Linked DNA regions of Homo sapiens: region 1 is linked to region 2. The links come from fine-mapping of genetic effects on gene expression. A gene starts in region 2. The other region holds a variant in brackets. All regions are shown on one strand. Distances are from middle to middle.

Evidence for each region. PIP is the estimated chance that this variant, and not a neighbour inherited with it, causes the effect.
Region 1: its variant is fine-mapped to the expression of DCAF7 in whole blood (TOPMed, PIP 0.94).

The regions. Positions count from the first base shown.
Region 1 is chr17:63,772,308-63,782,531 of GRCh38, forward strand. It overlaps CCDC47 (coiled-coil domain containing 47), which reads right to left and starts at 1,290. Exons shown (of 13, transcript NM_020198.3): 1 at 1,105-1,290. It overlaps DDX42 (DEAD-box helicase 42), which reads left to right and starts at 1,863. Exons shown (of 18, transcript NM_203499.3): 1 at 1,863-2,069. RefSeq lists enhancers at 1,165-1,749, 1,462-1,771 and a silencer at 1,902-2,191. The variant C/T (reference allele first, on the strand shown) is at 4,758.
Region 2 is chr17:63,545,540-63,555,763 of GRCh38, forward strand. It overlaps DCAF7 (DDB1 and CUL4 associated factor 7), which reads left to right and starts at 4,938. Exons shown (of 7, transcript NM_005828.5): 1 at 4,938-5,276. The coding sequence starts at 5,139. KCNH6 (potassium voltage-gated channel subfamily H member 6) reads left to right here. Exons shown (of 13, transcript NM_001278919.2): 13 at 70-1,188. The coding sequence ends at 363. RefSeq lists enhancers at 3,868-4,852, 4,152-4,541, 4,982-5,061 and silencers at 5,212-5,261, 5,282-5,431.

The sequences.
Region 1 (10,224 bases), 230 kb after region 2:
CAGTGGCACGATCTCGGCTCACTGCAAGCTCCGCCTCCCGGGTTCACGCCATTCTTCTGCCTCAGCCTCCCAAGTAGCTGGGACTACAGGCGCTCGCCACCACGCAGGGCTAATTTTTTGTATTTTTAGTAGAGACGGGGTTTCACTGTGTTAGCCAGGATGGTCTCGATCTCCTGACCTCGTGATCCACCCGTCTCGGCCTCCCAAAGTGCTGGGATTACAGACGTGGGCCACCGCGCCCAGCCTCCTTTTCAAATCCTACTCTTAAAACTTTTTTTTCATATAGAAGCAACTAAAAGTTAACACCGGAACAGTCAACTCGATTAACAGCCTGCCAAAAGATCCGATCATTTCAAATTGAATTTCCAATTAGAATATTCACACCATAGAAACACTTCTGAGATAACTCAGCACTATAATGGAGATCCTTCAAGGTTATTTAGGTTACAATCATCCAAGCCATTTTTACCTTGGTTTTCCCTCTTAGAAGTCTCCGCTGCACCTGTCAGTTCTCAAATGCACAAGTCCTTGCCAGACCACCCAGCCTCTATGACTCCTGAAGCAAGCAACACAGGACCAAGGAAAATTCACACAAGCGCTAACAAGTCTGGTTTGATTATTTTCTGCAAGCTCATCCAATAGTTCCTCAGCGACTGAGTCTAGACTTGAGGAAAGAGGACTGAGTGAGGCCATCATTCCTTGTTGTCATTTTAGATTAGGTCTTCCTGACAACGGCCAAAACGAGTATTCTGGAAATCATGCAGACTTTCCTCTGTCTCTTTATATGTGTTGGATACAAACACGTTTCATTTTAGAAACCTCCAGAAGAGACTGGCCACAGAGGTTTTTGCTTCTATTAAACCCCTTTGCCTAGTTTCTCCCCACCCAAGAGAATCAATACATCCTAATGTCATCCTCCGGCACACACTGTACATTTCCTCTAACTCTGCCCTTTTGGCTATCATTTGCTCACAGCTCCGTGGGAAAGTTCCCCCAAACCATTACAATTATCTCAACCGGACCGGGCTACAGGCCAAGCAACTCGGAGTCACCGCTCGGCCTGGCCCGGCCACGCCGACGAGCGCGTCCTGGCCCGCTCCTTACCTGTGGCCGAAGCCGAAACCCGGCCCAGCGCCCTGCGTCCGACACCCCTGCCCGGCCTGCCTCTCGGCCTGGCCGCCGCCTCCGCGATCGCAGCGGTTTTACTGCCCCGGATGCCTCTAGGACGCAGCCAGAACCGTAGCTCAGTCACGCCGCGCCTCTCTTCACGTAGCCTCCGCCGTCCGTTACGTAGAATGCGAGCGGCTCGTCAGCGCCTGCGCGCAGCCTGCGGGGCGGGACGCAACCCCGGGGAAAGCGCGAGACCTCCCTCTCTCCCGCCCGGCTGAGGCGAGGTGGGGCTTTTGGGAAAATTACATAATCCCCGCCCCTGGGCCGGAACTGCCCTCGCCTATCCCAATCCTCCTACCTAGGATTCCGTCAAGTTGACGTCACACGGAACCGGTGCTCCGGAAGCTAAAGGTGGCCATGCTGTGTGGGACCACGTGGCCAGAGGCAAGAGTGTCGCTCTAGTAGTATATGCAACAGTTTAAACTATAGGCATGTTCATGTAAATATGGTTTCTGTCCAACCCGTTTTCTCTTGGGATTTTTGGCTAGCCCCTTGACGCCACTTTTTCTTCATTCGCAGACCCACTTTCTAGATGGGTCATGAACACTGTCCACCCAACTGCAGTTTCCCGTCAGAGTATCTGAGGAGCCTGTGAGGCGTTCTGGAGCTTTAAGGTCAGGCGCCTTCCGGGAGCCGTAGCCCCGGCCCCGCCCTTCTGCCCGCGCGTTCCTCACTGCGCATGTCGCGTTTTTGTTCCCCTCCCCCCTTCAGCAACGGGCCGTGAGGCGGTGGCGGTGGTGGCGGTGGCGGCGGCGGTGGTGGTGGTGGCGGCGGCGGCGGCGAAGGGGGCGGAGAGGAAGGAGCGCGGCGGGACCGGGCCGGGACAGCGCGTACTTTGGGCTCCGGGATTCGCTCCGCGCCCGCGGTTGTAGCAGCTGCCGCTGCAGCCATAGCAGCAGGTTTGTGCGTGGGGTTTCTGGACGCAAGGCCGCCAGTCCTTGGGGGCACTGGAGGCAACTGCTGGGCCTAGCGAGGGCGGAGGAACCGCGGCCTCGCTTAACAAAGAGTCGGCAGAGCCTCGGGGCACCGGCGGCCGGGGTGCCGGGAAGGGGTGGGAGTGGGGGCTGAGGCCTCTAGGGTTCCTTCCTAGCCGCGTCGCCCTCCCACAGCTCCCGCTTCCCTCACAAGTCTTACCGAGGCCCAGTTGGCGGCTTTCCGGAGGCGGCGCCCCCTCGCCTAGGAAAAGGATTTGCAGGGTGCCCGGCTCCAGGGCAGGAATAGCGCGGGGAGAATTCTGACCCAAGGAGGCAGCGCTTGGGAGATGCAGGCCTCCGAATTTGGGGTCCTGAGAGGCAAAAGCTGCCAAATGAGAGGAGTGAAAAGATATAGGCGATGATCTTTGTGCAGCGTTGAGTAGGTCGATTATTAGCATCACTGTAGTCACACAAACTTTTTTGCGGCCTACTTGAGAGCGTATCTGATGTGAATAAATAATTTACATGGAATTGCAAACATATGCATCAAAAACAGGAGAAGCTGTCGAGAGTTTTGGGGAATTACATTCTCATCACTGAGAATTTCCCTCTTGCCCCCACTCCTATAGGCAGTTATCCAATTTCTTGTGGCTTCCCTGTGTTTTCTTTTTGTCAATGATGTTTCTATGTCTGTCCTCTCTCGTATACACACCCAGGACTTCCTCAAGCGCAGGGACTATGTCTTAAGGCGCTTTGCAGAGCCAAGCTCATTTCTGGCACATAAGAGGTGAGCAATGAGTGTTTCGTACAAAAATTAATGTTTATATTTTGACAGCTGGGAAAAGAAAATATATCTTCCTGTACCTGGAAGAAGCATTGTGTAGCCTAATGTGCAATTCGTTCATTCAAGGGGTATTTTTATTGGTGCCTATTCTCTAGCGCCGTTCTAGGTGATAGGGATAGGTGTTAGACCCCTGCCTTTGGGGAACTTAACTTTCTAGTAGCGGGAGGAGAGGCAAACAGATACATATATTATACTGAATGTTAGAAGATGATCAGTATCTTAGGGAAAAGAAAGCTGGAAAGGGGGTTGGGGAGGTGGTGGTGTTGGAATTTGCAATAAAGTGGTCAGGGAAGTCCATACAGACAAGCTGATATTTAAGCGGACTAGAAGGTGGAGTGAGAGCCTACGTTTATCTGGGGAAAGGAACGTTCCAAGCTAGAGAATAACAAACATAAAAGCCTTGAGGAGGACAAAGCTGGCCCGTTAAGAGTGTGAAGACCAACGCGTTTGGAGCACTGTGAGCTGAGGGAGTATTAGGAGATAAGGTCAGGGAAGAATTGGGGGAAGGGAGTGAGCGGAACAACCAAAGCCTTTTAGGCTGTTACTTAGGAAGGATCTGAGGGTTTCGATCAGAGGAATGATAATATCTGATTTATATTGTAACAATTTAATATAAGAGAGGAGTGCAGTTATTTAAATTTGTTTTGTTACATTGATAGTCATATAATCAGCTCTTAGTTGCTTTAAGCTGACAGGAGAAGGGATGCTTCTAAAATAACCATAACCTAGCATTTACTTGTATTTGGTTTAGAAGAATGTGATTACGTTCTTGAGTTTTTATTTAGATTCTCATCAAAGAACTGACCTGTATATAGTGTGTGAGGTACTCTCAAAGTATATGTAGAGTAGATGCTAATCACTGTCACTAGAACTCTTCCTTCCACCTCCAAAAATACAAGTGATAAAGTAATGTGGCTTATATAATCAGTTGTTTTTAGTCCACTATATTTAAAGTCATTTAGATCATATCTTATTTTCCGCCATTGCCGAAAACACAAACTAGCTAAATTGTCTTCCTTTATAAGTGTGTTCCACATTTATTCTCACTTCCTAGCCTTTGCTAGTTCAGTCTTTCTCCCTGGAATGTCTTCGTCTGCACGTCTCTACCCAGCTTTCATCTTTCTGTGCCTAGCCTGGCTTCTGACTCTGTTATGACACTTGCCCTTGCTTGTTAGCTCATGGTGATCTCTGACATCTTCAGTGTTCTTGTGGCGCTTATGTATGAAATACCTGAGTTGAAAGAAGTCTGATAGTCTCAATTTACCGATGAAGAAATTGGTTCTTCAGAAATAATGTAATAATGAAAAACACGATGGTAGCTGACATATTGAACAAGTACATTTTTGTGTATGAACTTAATTTTTCACGCCAACTCTTGAGATAGGTGATAGTCTCATCTTTTTTTTTTTTTTTTGAGATGGTGTCTGGCTGTGTTGCCCAGGCTGGTCTTGAACTCCTGAGCTCAAGTAATCCGCCTGCCTCAGCCTCCCAGAGTGCTGGGATTACAGGCGTGAGCCACCACACACAGCCTCTTACCATTTTTTATAGATGAGGAAACTGAACCCAGAGAAGCTAAATAACTTCCCTGAGGTTCATATCAAGTTAGTAGCAAAGATAGTTTACACATAGCCTGTGCTACTTTACTATTCTGTTAAGATTTCCTAGGAAACCACCGTGTTTTATTTATTTTTTAGAGACTGTCTTGCTGTGTTGCCCAGGTTGGAGTGCAGTGGTCCAGTCAGCTCATTGTAACCTGGAACTCCTGGGTTCAAGCAATCCTCTTGCCTCAGCCTCCTGAGCAGCTAGGACTACAGGCGTGTGCCACCATG[C/T]CTGGCTAATTTTTTAAATTTTTTTGTAAAGACAGGGTTTTATTGTGTTGCCCAGGCTGGTCTCAAACTCGTGGCCTTAAGTGATCCTCCCACCTTGGCCTCCCAAAGGGCGAGGATTACAGGTGTGAGCCACCTTGCCCAGCCAGCCATAGGATTTAGTGCCTAGAACCATACCAAATAGGACTTGATGCCATCTTGACTGTTTCTCTTCAGCCTAGTTGTAGATCTCCTTTAGTCTTTTACATATTGAATAAATGAGTATCTAATATTGAAAACATGCTATAAGAGAAAAGTGAATAAGCCTGTTTCTTCAGCCATGAATCCTATAATACGGAGTTGGACTGGAAAGGGAGTTTGAGGAAGGAGATGCCATTTCTTTTTCTTTCTTTTTTTTTTTTTTTGAGACGGAGTCTCACTCTGTCGCCCAGGCTGGAGTGCAGTGGCGCGATCTTGGCTCACTGCAAGCTCCGTCTCCCGGGTTCAAGTGATTCTCCTGCCTCAGCCTCCGGAGTAGCTGGGACTACAGGTGCCCACCACCACGCCTGGCTAATTTTTTTGTATCTTTAATAGAGATGGGGTTTCAGCATGTTAGCCAGGATTGTCTCGATCTCCTGACTTCGTGATCCACCCGTCTCGGCCTCCCAAAGTGCTGAGATTACAGGCGTGAGCCACCGTGCCCAGCCAGGAGATGCCATTTCTTTGGGGATATCATATTCATGTCTTTAGGAGTTGGTATTTGAGATATGCTTTGAAGGATAGGACTTTGGTAGGTACTCACAGTTTATAGGAAAGAGATTTGATGTGAAGGGGATCCAGTTAGAGGGAAGAGGATTCACTAGAGTGCTTGTTTTCCTGGAAAACTGAGTACGTGTGGAGAGACCCTGGGAAATATGAATGGTAAAGTAGTTTGATGCCACAATGGAGGGTCTCATTCCAGCATGATTAACTGTGGAGAGCTATGGAATTGAGGAGAGTGACATAATCAGAAATGTGTGTTCTGGAAGAACCTGGAAAGGGTTTTCGATAAGCATCTGAATACTGACCTCCCTTCTGTGAGACTTTTTCTGGTTCCACGGTATTAACACACACTATGCTACTCTACCAAAGGAGGTAAAACTTGCTTTTCTCTTTTCACTGTGTGTCTCACTATTACTTCATCATTTTATGCTTTACTAAACAGAATCACTTCTCATAGACTATGGAAGATTTGCTGGTTTTAGATGAAGCATCTGGATGTACATCCACATTACTTTTCCAATAAAACAGACATTCTTGGGACAGTAGTCAGGGGAGGATTACCTGTCAAATGTCATTCATCTCAGAGAGGCCTTGCCTGACTTAAGTCTGCAATAGCTTGCCTCTTACCCTCTTGCTTGCTTTTCATAGCACTTTTGCTACCTGGAATTACATGATTTAGTTTTTCTTTCTCCTGGGCCAGACTGTGAACTCTGAGTATGGCTGCATCTGATTCCATTACTGTATCCTTAGCACCTTAGAGCAGTTACTGGCACAAAATAGGCACTCAGTATATTTTGACTTAGTGATCACTCTAGTAGTGCTGTGAGAGCTTGATAATAAAGTTTTTTTTTTTTTTAAGACAGCATCTCGCTCTGTTATCCAGGCTGGAGTGCAGTGGCACGATCTCGGCTCACTGCAGCCTCCGTGTCCTGGGTTCAAGAGATTCTCCTGCCTCAGCCTCCTAAGTAGCTGGAACTATGGGTGCGCGCCATCACGCCTGGCTAATTTTTGTATTTTTAGTAGAGATGGGGTTTCACCATGTTGGCCAGGATGGTCTTGATCTCCTGACCTTGTGATCCGTCCACCTCGGCCTCCCAATAATCAGAAATTTTTTTTTAGGAAATAATTGCAATAGTGGAGGTGGAGATGGAAAGGCGGGTATACGTGAGGGATGTCCCTCATAGTACTGGGCACATAACAAAATCATCAGTGGTTATTGGTCAGTATAAAACAATGGATGTTATTACTAAGAACCACTTAGGGTTGTTCTTTTTTAAACAAATACTCATTAAACTTTGTTTATGGCTCTATTCAGCTAATTCTTTTCAAATTAGGTATTTCAAAAGGGTTCTTTTTTAAATTTTTATTTTTTGGCACCCCAGCAGGAAATGAAGAAATCTTTTTTAAGAGAAAAAATACAAAAATGCAGTTGAATTTCCCCAAGTGTGTTTTTTTTGTTTGTTTTGGTTTTGTTTTTTTGAGACGCAGTCTCACTCTGTCACCCAGGCTGGAGTGCATTGGCATGATCTCGGCCCACTGCAACCTCCGACTCCTGGGTTCAGGCCATCCTCCCACCTCAACCTCCCGAGTAGCTGGGGCTACAGGTGCACACCACCACACCTGGGTAATTTTTGTATTTTTTGTAGAAATCAGGTCTTTCATTGTTGTCCAGGCTGACCTCTAACTCCTGAGCTCGAGCCATCCTCCTGCCTTGGCTTCCCAAAGTGCTGGGACTGCAGTTGTGAGCCACTGTGCCCACCTCATTTTGTTTTCTTCTTTTGGTACTATCACCACAATCTAGCCACAGGACACTTTTCATCTTGTAAAACTGAAATTCTGTACCCATTAAACAATAACACCCTATTCTCCCCTCCTCGCAGCCCCTGGCAACCACTCTTCTACTCTGTGTCTCTGAGTTTGACTATTCTAGGTATCTCTTTTTTTTTTCTTTTTGTTTTCTTTGTAGAGATGGGGTCTCGCTGTGTTGCCCAGGCTGGTCTCAAACTCCTGGCCTCAAGCCATCCTCCTGCTTCCCAGAGTACTGGGAATATAGGCGTAAGCCACTGCATCTGCCTCTTTTATTTTTTTAGTAACCAAATAGAAATTTGGGTGGCTATCTTTTGCTTCTTCTGTCAGCTATACTCCCACAAATCTCTGTGATTGTCAAGGTTCAGTAACCATATACACTACATGGTTTAATAGTAGGAAAAACTGCCGGGCACGGTGGCTCACGCCTGTAATCCCAGCACTTTGGGAGGCCAAGGCAGGCAGATCACCGGCGGTCGGGAGTTTGAGACCAGCCTGACCAACATGGAGAAACCCCATCTCTCCTAAAAATACAAAATTAGCCAGGCGTGGTGGCACATGCCTGTAATTCCAGCTACTTGGGAGGCTGAGGCAGGAGAATCACTTCAACCTGGGAGGCGGAGGTTGTGGTGAGCTGAGATTGCGCCATTGCACTCCAGCCTGGGCAACAAGAGCGAAACTGTCTCAAAAAAACAAAAAAAAAAAAAAGTAGGAAAAACTGTTGTCAAGAGACTTAAGTAATGATCCATTGAGGATGATCTGGCTTAGATTTAATCAGGAAGGGTGGTTAGCTAGATAACAAGGTTTGTAGTAATAAAATAGAGTTTTCATAAATACTGGGATGAATTTTGGAGAGCCTGAATACATTACATTTATTCATACAGCAAAATTTTTTGAGTACTATGCAGACACCAAGGATATAGTGCTGGACAAATTGAGTCAAGTCTATGCCCTCATAGAGCTAACATTCTACTCAGGGTATATAGAAAGCACAGTTCCTTGGCCTTCCTAGAGTCAGTAATTGAGGGACAATGAGCTGTGTGTTCTAGATGAGCTAGGGAAAGGATCGCTTTTCCAACTTGCTAAGTCTTGAGAGCCAGTAAGCAACCCTCACCTGCCCAAGGTCTCACTGCCTGCCTGTTTGTGGCAGGAGTTGATTTGCTGCTTTTGTAATATGAACCTTTTGATTATTTAATAGGGCTGATTCATAGTCATGTTTGTTCTTTTCACTCCTTCCCTCTAGCTTTGGGGGAAGAGTGAGTTACTCCTGTTGTTAAAAGTTTTGATTGTGTCTGGTCTTCTCTGGAAATCCTATGACTTTTTTCTGTCATTTTGCATCTTCAGTTTTTCAGACTTTACTGGTTTTTCCCCTTTAGCATATAAACATGCCTATGTTTCTTTAAAAAATAAAATTTCTGTAGGTAATGCTTCACTTTCTCCTTCCTATCATTGATAAACAGCCTACAAAGTACTCTTGACTCCTCTTGACCTAGTCTTCATCTTCTACTACTTACTTGCCAGGTACTCCTCAACCCTGTCCCTACTGCTCCATTGAAACTGCTTTCACTGATGACTCCTGGTTGCCTATACAACAGAAGAATTTTAGTTCTTTTTGTTTTGTTTTTTTGAGACAGAGTCTCGCACTCTCGCCCAGGCTGGAGTGTAGTAGCCGGATCTTGGCTCACCGCAAGCTCTACCTCCCAGGTTCATGCCTTTCTCCTGCCTCAGCCTCCTGAGTAGCCGGAACTACAGGTGCCCGCCACCACGTCCGGCTAATTTTTTGTATTTTTAGTAGAGATGGGGTTTCACCGTGTTAGCCAGGATGGTCTTGATCTCCTGACCTTGTGATCCGCCTGCCTTGGCCTCCCAAAGTGCTGGGATTACAGGCGTGAGCCACCGTGCCTGGCACATTTTAGTTCTTAACTTACCTAACTTCTCTTTAGTTTTCTGCCTATAGAGCTTCTTTCTCCTCACCCGTGTTCCTCCTTGTCTCCCCTTCCTTCTTTCCCCCTCTTCTTTCTTTCCCTTCCCCAATCCCTGTTCCATCTGAAGTTTCCATGTAAGCTTCTCTTTTTCTGCCCATTCCTAAATAGTGATATATGTTAAGAATTGTCTTACTGGGCCGGATGTGGTGGCTCACGCCTGTAATCCTAGCACTTTGGGAGGCCGAGGCAGGTGGATCACGAGGCCAGGAGATCGAGACCATCCTGGCTAACATGGTGAAACCCCGTCTCTACTAAAAATACAAAAAATTAGCCGGGCCTGGTGGCAGGTGCCTGTAGTCCCAGCTACTGGGGAGGCTGAGGCAGGAGAATGGTGTGAACCCGGGAGGCAGAGCTTGCAGTGAGCCGAGATTGTGCCACTGCACTCCAGCCTGGGCGACAGAGTGAGACTCCGTCTCAAAAAATAAAAATAAAAAAAGAATTGTCTTACCAGCTGGGCGCAGTGGATCACGAGGTCAGGAGTTTGAGACCAGCCTGGCCAACATGGTGAAACCTGTCTCTACTAAAAATACAAAAATTAGCTGGGCACGGTGGTGCGTGCTTGTAATCCCAGCTACTCGGGAGGCTGAGGCAGGAGAATTGCTTGAACTCAGGAGGCGGAGGTTGCAGTGAGCCAAGATCATGCCATTGCCCTCCAGCTCTGGGCGACAGAGCAAGACTCCGTCTTGGGGAGAAAAGAAAGAATTGTCTTACTTCTTTTCTCACTCTGCATGGTCTCTCTGCTAGCTTATTTACATCAGTAACCTCAAATGCAAATGGCTTACATCAAATCTATAGCTCACTCCGGACCCCTCTCTGCAGTTACTGCCCCTGCTTGGCATCTCTACTCAGCTCTCTCATAGATACTGAACTCACCTTTTGCCTAATTTTGCAAACCTGGCTCTTTTAGGTTTCCATCTCCATTAGTGGCTCCACAGTTC
Region 2 (10,224 bases):
TCCCTGAAATCAGGGTGGATTAACCCGCAGCCTGGCCTGGGGTGCATCCCTCTTTCTTGCTCCTCCCAGACCCCAAGCTATGGAGACTTGGATGACTGTAGTCCAAAGCACAGGAACTCCTCCCCCAGGATGCCTCACCTGGCTGTGGCAACGGACAAAACTCTGGCACCATCCTCAGAACAGGAACAGCCTGAGGGGCTCTGGCCACCCCTAGCCTCACCTCTACATCCCCTGGAAGTACAAGGACTCATCTGTGGTCCCTGCTTCTCCTCCCTCCCTGAACACCTTGGCTCTGTTCCCAAGCAGCTGGACTTCCAGAGACATGGCTCAGATCCTGGATTTGCAGGGAGTTGGGGCCACTGAACTCCAAGATAAAGACACCATGAGGGGACTGAAGGTGGGCAAGGTGAGAGTTAAGGATCTTGGGGAGGTGGCCGGGTGCAGTGGCTCGCCTGTAATCCCAGCACTTTGGGAGGCCGAGGCGGGCGGATCAGACCATCCTGGCTAACACGGTGAAACCCCACCTCTACTAAAATTAAAAAAGAAAAAAAATAGCCGGGCGTGGTGGCAGGCGCCTGTAATCCCAGCTACTGGGGAGGCTGAGGCAGGAGAATGGCATGAACCCGGGAGGTGGAGGTTGCAGGGAGCCGAGGCCGCACCACTGCACTCCAGCCTGGGTGACAGAGTGAGACTCCAACTCAAAAAAAAAAAAAAAAAAGATCTTGGGGAGGCAGACAGCCCCCCAGATGGGCCTCTCCTAAAGTAGCTACAAACTGCTGATCCAGGTGACCCAGGATGGCGTGGGTGAAGAAGCTCACGACTTTTCCCAGCCTCCTCCAGGGCTCCATTTAAACAGCAAGCCTGGTGCAGGGTGGGAGAGTCTCAGGTGTGGAGGCAGCTTACAGGATTGAGGGGGCAGTGAAGAAAGAGGTTTCTGATCTACATGAGTACCTTGCTCTGAGCCTCCCAGCTCAGAACCCTCCAGCACCTCATGGCTCAGCACCAAGGCCCGGGGTTGGTCAGAACTCTTACCATGAGCCTCTGACCTGGCTGGAGATGGAGGTATGTTCTGTGGCAGACATGTCAGGACAGTCCTCCAGCCCTCTGCTCCTGATGGTTCTGTGACATTGGGTCTCTTGAGGGCAGTGGAGTGTCACACAGCTAATAAAGTACACATTTCATGTTGGACTGGGTGTGTAACTTATCTGAAGGTCATTACGTCTTTGACTGTGCTGTGGCTTTCTCCAAACCCTTCTTGTAAGGAGCTGCAGACTTACCCTCCACCATATCCAGTGTGTTGGGGACCTGAAGGTGGTTCTGCTGGGCCCAGAGGCTCCTGGAGCCTGGGGCTGTTAGGCCGAGGTGAAGGGAAGCAGAGGCACTGGCTTGGTGGCCCTAGGGGATCATGACAACAGCCAACACTTCGGTAGCACTCGCCCCGTACCAGGCACTGTGCTGACAGCTCTGCAGATACTTGTTCATCTAATCCTCAAAACAACCCCAACGGGTTGGTATTATTATCCCCATTTTACAGATGTGGGATCAGTAGCAGAGAGACTAAGACACCCAAACATGAGGGGGATTTCTGAGGTGCAGGTACTGTTCTGTTTCCTGATCTAGGTGCTGGTTACAGGTGTTCAGGTTGCGAAAGAGTGTGCTTCTGTGTGTAAATTATACCTCAGTTAAAAAGAAAATAAAAATAAAAAAAGAGGCCAGGTGTAGTGGCTCATGCCTGTAATCCCAGGGCTTTGGGAGGAGGATGAGGCAGGAGGACTGCTTGAGGCCAGGAGTCCAAGGTTACAGTAAGCCGTGATTGCATCACTGAACTCACACCCTGGGCAAGGGAATAAGACCCTGTCTCAAAATGAAAATTTTAAAAATCATCCCCGTGCCCAACACGGGGCATTTGTATTGACCCATTTCTACCCAAATAGCAGCGATTTGAGAGCCACCACCATCTATTTTAAAAACACAAGAAACCCTTCTTTAACATCGTTCTTTTTTCTTTTCTCATAATTCCCACTTATTCCTCCCATAGTTTTATCCTACATGTAATTTATTGGTATGCTTCAAAGCCTAATATTGATCACCCTATCATATGTTTGCAACACAAATATGTATACAGGCTGGGTGCAGTGGCTCACTCATGCCTGTAATCCCAACACTTTGGGAGGCTGAGGCTGGAAGATTGCTTGAGCCAGGAATTCAAGACCAGCCTGGGCAGCATAGCTCAACCTGGTCTCTACAAAACAATTTTTTTTTAATTAGCCAAGCATTGTGATGCGCACCTGTAGTCCCAGGTACTACAGGGCTTGCTGGGAGGCTTGGGTGGGAGAGTCACTTGAACCTAAGAGGTCAAGACTGCAGTAAGCCATGTTCATGCAACTGTACTCCAGCCCGGGTAACAGAGCAAGACTCGGTCTCTTAAAAAAAAAAAAAAAAGTGGCTGGGCGCAGTGGCTCACACCTGTAATCCCAGCACTTTGGGAGGCTGAGGTGGGCAGATCACGAGGTCAGGAGATCAAGACCATCCTGGCTAACAGGGTGAAACCCCATCTCTACTAAAAATACAAAAAAAATAGCCAGGCGTGGTGGCAGGTGCCTGTAGTCCCAGCTACTCGGGAGGCTGAGGCAGGAGAATGGCGTGAACCCAGGAGGTGGAGCTTGTAGTGAGCCAAGATCGTGCCACTGCACTCCAGCGTGGGCAACAGAGCAAGACTCCGTTTCAAAAAAAAAGTAGGTCGGTCATGGGGTGGCTCATGCCTATAATCCCAGCATTTTGGGAGGCTGAGGTGGGAGGACCAGTTGAACCCAGCCTGGGCAACATAGCAAGATCTTGTCTCTACAAAAAATAAAGGAGGCAGGAGGATTGCTTGAGCCCGGGAGGTCAAGGCTGCAATAAGCACTGTTTGCCCCACTGCACCACCACCTGGATAACAGAGCAAGACCCTGCCTCAAAACGAATGTGTATAAATTAATTGACATTTTAAAATTAATTTTTGTAACCTTAATAAGGCTTTAAGGGTTACATCTATTAGTAGTACAGTTGTTCAAAACAACATAAATATATATTCAATTTTCTAATAAAAACTAAAATTTTATTGGAAATATACGTCATAAAAGAGAAAATTTCCTCCCCCCGTTAGTTCCTATATCTGTGGATAAATATCATTATTTTTTATTAGAATAAGACAAGGTACCGCGAATTTTGTACGTCTTTTTCTTTCCTTTTTAAATTTGTTTTTAAACTTTCCTCCTTACAGGGGATTTCCTTTAGCTGGGCATGGTGGCGGGCGCCTGTAATCCCAGCTACTCAGGAGGCTGAAGCAAGAGAATCACTTGAACCCTAAAGGCAGAGGTTGCAGTGAGCCGAGATAGTGCCACTGCACTACAGCCCGGGCGACAGAGTGAGACTCCATCTCAAAAATAAAATAAAATTAAAAAAAAAAGAGGATTTCTTGGCCAGATGCGGTGGCTCACGCCTGTAATCCCAACACTTTGGGAGGCCGAGGCTGGAAGATCATTTGAGGTCAGGAGTTCGACACCAGAATGGCCAACATGGTGAAACCCCATCTCTACTAAAAATACAAAAATTAGCTGGCTGTGGTGGTGCACCCCTGTAATCTCAGCTACTCGGGAGGCTGAAGCAGGAGAATCACTTGAACCTGGGAGGTGGAAAAATCATTTATCATTAAAAATTATATTTAGTGCCCAGAATGGTGGCTCAAGCCTGTAATCCCAGTACTTTAGGATGCTGATGTGGGAGGATCGCTTGAGCCCAGGAGTTCGAGATCAGCCTGGGCAACATGGAGAGATCTCATCTCTACAAATAATAATTTAAAAATAGCTAGGTGTGGTGGCAAATGTCTGTGGTTCCAGCTACTCCAGAGGCTAAAGTGGGGGAATCGTTTGAACCTAGGCAGTCCAGGCTACAGTGAGCCCTTATCACACCAGTGCACTCCAGCCTGGGTGACAGGGCAAGACCCTGTCTTTAAAAAAAAAAAAAAAAAGTATTTAATGTTATCATCCAACAATTCAATACAAACCTCCTTCAATTTTGATGAAAGCTGAGAATTGGAAATAATTTATATAAAGGTGTCATTTGGTCTCTGGCCCTTCCCCTTTTCCAACTCACAGGCACAGATACCTTTGGGGCTGGATTAGCATTTGCGTTGGGATCCACGGCGGGAAGGGTACAGGATGGGAACTGACAAAAACAGAGCCAAGCTGGTCGGGTCGGTGCCTACCCCAGAATTCGGGGACATTTCTAGATCCTGCAGGAAAGCGCGGGAGGGCCTGACTCAAGCTGGCCTGGCCCTGAGCGCATCTGCGCGCCCGAAGCCTGTCCCTGAGGCACGGAGAGAGCAGCTTTCGGGTTAAAAGGGCCCTGGGAAGAGATGGGGCGGGAAGGTGGTACCCGTTGGGCGCAGGCCAGGCTGCCAGGCCGCAGGGCTCTGTCCCGCGAAAGTCAGTAGGTCTTCCACTAAGGCAGAATTGTACTTTTACTCGACAGCGTGGAGAGGCCGCTCAGAACAGCAGCAGCGGAGGGGAAGTCAGCGCAGGTCACAGACGGTTTCACTCTCAGAGACTTGGCCTAGAACTTGGAGGCCCGCTGCTACAGCACGCTCGCCTCCAGGCCACCCACGCCCCCACCACCCGCACTGAGCCGTTATCTGCCTGACTGACATCTTGGCCAACCAATGACCTTTGGGGCTGCCAAAGCGCCTGCCTCCGAGAGTTGGGCGGGGCGAGTAGTTGCAATGACAAACATTTAACCCAATAGCGAGGAGATTTCAGACGCTACGGCCGCAATAACCAATGACAAGAAAGAATCCTTTCGAAAGGACGTGTCAGGCAACCAACGGCCGGTGCCGCTGCGGGGGTCCGGCGGCTTCCGTTCCGAGAGGGCGGGGCGGCGTCCCAAAACGGAAGGTGGTTGTCGTCCGTTCCCAAGCTGGTTTGAAACTAGGGGTCGGGCTCGGCCGTCGTCGTTGTTTGTCGCCGCATCCCCGCTTCCGGGTTAGGCCGTTCCTGCCCGCCCCCTCCTCTCCTCCCTTCGGACCCATAGATCTCAGGCTCGGCTCCCCGCCCGCCGCAGCCCACTGTTGACCCGGCCCGTACTGCGGCCCCGTGGCCACCATGTCCCTGCACGGCAAACGGAAGGAGATCTACAAGTATGAAGCGCCCTGGACAGTCTACGCGATGAACTGGAGTGTGCGGCCCGATAAGCGCTTTCGCTTGGCGCTGGGCAGCTTCGTGGAGGAGTACAACAACAAGGTGGGCCGGGCAGGGGCTCGGAACCCAGCTGGCGGGGAGCGGGCCCCGGGAGCGCCCTTTCCGGGCCGGAGCCCAGGCCTCAGAACCCTCTTGCGGACTCGCCCTAGGGCCACGGAGCGGTTCCTCTGTCTGGCCCTGTGCTGAAGGTTTCGTACTCGTTGTCTGTCTCCTTTAATCCAGGCAGCATTCTTGTGTAGTCGGCAGTGTAGTGGGGAAACTGAGGCACGGTTTTGTGACTTGCCTGGGTCAGGCAGCTATTTCGGGGTGGAAACAGGTCTTAAAACCGGGTTTACGCCCCAAAGATACTCCATTTATTCATCCCGTGCTCTCCACTCCTGCCGCATTGCTTTCGTTGGTGGGCGGGGAAGGGAAGAGAGAGTGATAGCTGTGAAGGAAAATGCAGGCGCTTCTATTGGTGGTCGTGCACTCCTGGCCACACTAGATTTCTATTAAGACGATCTATTGTACAAGCTTCCCCGCCCCCTACTCCCACCCCCCCCGGGTACTCATGGATCCTAGCCCTTCTGCCAGAATTACTGTTGCTCTTGCTTCCTGATATCCATTCTCTCTAAAGCAATCTCTTTGGAAATCTTGGCCTGTGGCATGATCCCGCCGTTGTTTCCTGAACACAGAAGGATGACAGGGCCTTATCTCTTGGCTTGTTTCGTGCTAGTACAGTTGTGTGACCTTTAGTAGTAAGTCTTGCTGGACATACATCAATTTGAGAATCCTTTATAGAAGCACGGTGTAGTAGGGGAGCTTTTAAACTGGCATTGCAACAAACTCATTTTTGAAAGTTGAATAAGTCAGTTGGAAGAATTTTCTTTCTTCCTTTTACTCAAAGTTGTGAATGATAGCGATCAGAGCAACTGAAAGCTGTGGCTAGTGATATTTAAAGCCACTACTCCTGCTTTATGCCATGAACATCAGATTTAAGAAGAGTAAAACTGGCCGGGCGCGGTGGCTCACGCCTGTAATCCCAGGACTTTGGGAGGCCGAGGCGGGCGGATTACCTGAGCTCAGGAGTTCGCGACCAGCCTGGGTAACACGGTGAAACCCCGTCTCTACTAAAATACAAAAAAAAAAAAAAAAAAAAAAAAAAAAAAAAAAAAAAAAGCCGGGCGTAGCTTAGTGCGCCTGTAGTCCCAGCTACTCGGAAGTCTGAGGCTGGAGAATTGCTTGAACCTGGGAGGCGGAGGTTGCAGTGAGCCGAGATGGCGCCACTGCACTCCAGCCTGGGCGACAGAGTGAGACTCTGTCTCAGAAAAAAAAAGAAGAATAAAACTGTTCAGTGACAAGGCTGATGCAGGGGGGAAGAAACCAGGTGGTCCTGTCTGGTTATTGACTAGCTGTGAGATGTTGCACAGGCCTGTTTTATTATCTGTGACCCACAGTTTGTACGGAAGGGGTTCTGGTTTACATGTGAGGGTCTTGTAAAAAAGAAATTTGAACATTTCACAGTTTGTTTACAGTTTTTCAGGAGCACATTTGTTTCTCTAGAGTAGGTCCTCTTTGGAGTCCACTTTGAGAAGCTGATGAAAGCTATGGATTCTCATTGTCCAGACATTACACATACATGAACAATTTACAAACAAATCCAAGGAATATGCACTGATCTTTAAGTCCACCCATTGCCCGGGCGAGATAGAGCTTTCTTTCCTCTGTTGCTTCTTTCTTCCTTATGGCCCATAGTGGACAGCAGAACTGGAAATGGGATTCACGATTCTGATGTGGACACCGTGTTAATAAAATTAAGACCACTAGAACTATTGTTTAAAGATACACGTGGAAAATAAAAAAGTATGTCTTTCAAAGGGCTTAAGTCTTTTTACACAAATTAATGTTTTTTCTTGTAAGTTTTTCCAGGGTCGTTGGGTAAGCAATAGTTACTCCTATTCCTCAGAGAGGAGAAACTGAGCCACAGTTAGGCTGCTTGGTAGGATCAGTGGAGTAGTCAAACTGCTGTTGCAGGAACTCTACCCCAGTTTGTCCTTTCATTTAGCAACTATCTGGAGCTTCCTCTTTGTGACAGGCACACAGGTAGCATGGCTTAGCAGTGAAATGCAAACTAATAACCCCACTATCAACAGCATTAGCAGTTAACTATATCTTAACTCACATGATGTAGGCAATGCGCTGTCTTAAAATCATTTTTGTGCCTCCACCTATCAGTAGATCAGGGTTCTTAAATTCTGTGTGCCATGGTCATCTGATACCAATAGACCCCTTCTCATAGTTATGTTTTCAAATGCATAAAACACATAGAATTACAAAAGAAACCACTTATGTTGCACTACAGATATAAACAACATGTTTTTTAAAGTGGTGATGTAGTCATATGTACTTTTAATAAATTAACTTATTGATTTACACCATCCACTGTAATTATTAATGTAATTTTGAAATGGTGACAAGGGTAAACAGCATTTCAAGATGCTTAACAACTGTGCTGTGGTGGGAAAAAAAAATTCTCTTGCTGGCAAAGTCACAGACAGTCATACCACTGTGAGCACCTGACCCCATTTGTAATTGAAGGAAACAAAAAAATTTAGCTAGAGGTTAATGGAAATATGGGGATAATTTTCCAATTCAAGTTCACAGACCCCAAGTTAAGAAACCCTGCGAGAGAGAAGTATGTGTAGTGGTTGGTGAGCAGCAAATCCTGCCTTAAAGTGATTCTCAGGCTAAGTTTGTGAGAAACCCTGCCAAAGAGGTGGTCGACTTCATAATTTGGAGGAACTTTAGAATTATTGGTTGGAATTTTTAGACCATTGGTTCCTGCTTGCCATGGATAGTGGTCACCAGCAGAGGATAAAGTAAAATGGACACAGCAAATTAACACTGATGAAAAAGGCTAGAAGTGGTCATCTTTTTAGTGTGGAGACATTCACTAAGAAAACATGGTTGTAATTTTTAAAAATTTGCATTAGCATAATCATGTTTTCCTAACGTAAAATTGTACCTAGTTGATCCATAGAATTAAGTCTATCAACAGTTTAAGAAATTGACTTCCAGGTGTTCCTTCATGTGAATAAATTTGGGAATTGTTGCAGAGTAAAGAAACAGATTCTATCAACTACACTTGGAATAAAAAGCCCCATTATAGGGCTGGGCGTGGTGGCTCACACCTGTAATCTTAGCACTTTGGGAGGCTGAGATGGGAGAATCGCTTGAGCCCGGGAGTTTGATACCAACCTGGGCAACATGGAGAAACCCTGACTCTACAAAAACATTAAAAAATTAGCCAGGTATGGTGGCATCTGCCTGTAGTACCAGCTACTTGGGAAGCTGAGGTAGGAGGATGCTTTAAGCTCAGGAGGCAGAGGTTATAGTGAGCCAAGATCACGCCACTGCACTCCAGCCTGGGCGACAGAGCCAGACCCTGTCTCAAAAAACAGCCTCATTATTGGTTATTATGTTTCTACCTTCTTTTGTTGTGGTCTCTTGAGGGATACAGCAAGATTGGTGTTGGAGCAACAGGTTCTCTAAATTTTAGTGTGTGAGAATCCTGAGGGAGCTGCACATTCCTGGGCTCCACCCCTGAAGTTAACAGACTTGGAGATAGGTGACAGACACACTAGTGGTTGAGTGGTCCAGATGGCACTCTCAGAACATGGCCCTGGAGCTGCCTTGGCATCTGTTGGCCAGAGGCGAGAATGTGATCTTTTTGTGTCTGCATGCTCCTAAACATTGGTTCTGCCCTTCCATCCAAGTTCACCCATGAAAAAAGCTCTGTGATTAGCCTGGGTTATCTAAGTCCTGCCACTTCCCAGTTTTGTATTGCCTTGGGCAAGTTATCCTCTGTGTCTCAGTTTCATCATCTGTAAAATTAGGGCAATAAATAATAACATCTACCTTGTTCAAAGATTAAATGAGTTAATATATGTAATGGACTTAGGAACGCCACCCGGTGTGGAATAAGCCATATAGAGATGTTAGCTGTTATTTAATTATTATCATTACTGTACCTGTAATTGAAATATAACCAAAGAGAATTATATGGCTGTTTAGTAAATTTACTTTTGTATTTTCCAGAAAGGATTCAGGAATAAGAGGTCAGAAAGGTAGCTGAAAAGGTCATTATTTCATTCTCTGCCTTTTAAAGACTCTGGGGGGAAAATTCCCTTATCTCTTTCAACCCAACTCATTTTGTAGTCTAGCAGATTCTTATAGTCAGACTCCAAGTAGTGTAATTTTCTAGTTTAAATCCATTTTCTCTTGTTCTACCTGGCTTACCTACGTAAGTCAGATATAAGAATTTGGCATTTCTCCTGTGTTTTGACAATATGTTTGGTCTTTAGGCCCAGGTGTTATTTCCCCTCTTTTATTGGGAAAAGCTGGGTAGCAGTTCCTGGGCTTCTGTTCCACTTAAGTGCATGTTTCAGGGTTGGTTTTGATAAAGATGGCAGTGTGATTGGGATTTAGTTTGCCCCAGTATTTAACTGACTACTTGTGCTCTAAGATTTGGCATCCAGAGAGTATTTTTGAGGTTCTGAGGAGAGACTGTAGGTATATCTGATGCTTTTTGGAGAATCCTAGTAGTGAGTCTGGGTGGCATGACCACCTTGTACTTGAAACACTGGGATGGGTACTCACCTCACCAGCCTGTGTTGATTCCTCTGAGGTTTTTAATACAATTACTTTATATGTTTGATGCATAATTATTTCGACTCCGGTATTTAATTTTTCATCTTGGTATTTGCGGTAGCCCTTCAGGATTATCATTCATTTGCTCATTAATTTAGCCGGTCTGTATTGAACACATACTCATGTGTTTTAGGCACAATGTGTTTTGGTACACATCAGTACTTTTGATAGATATTTAGAATGTCGCAGTGTTCCACGAGTCCCTGTCAAGACTGTCAGCAGGGGAATTTAAGACATAAAACTCTTCTGGTTTTAACTTCCTCCTTTTTCTAGACAGTGAGAGGACTCATTCCCTGTTGTG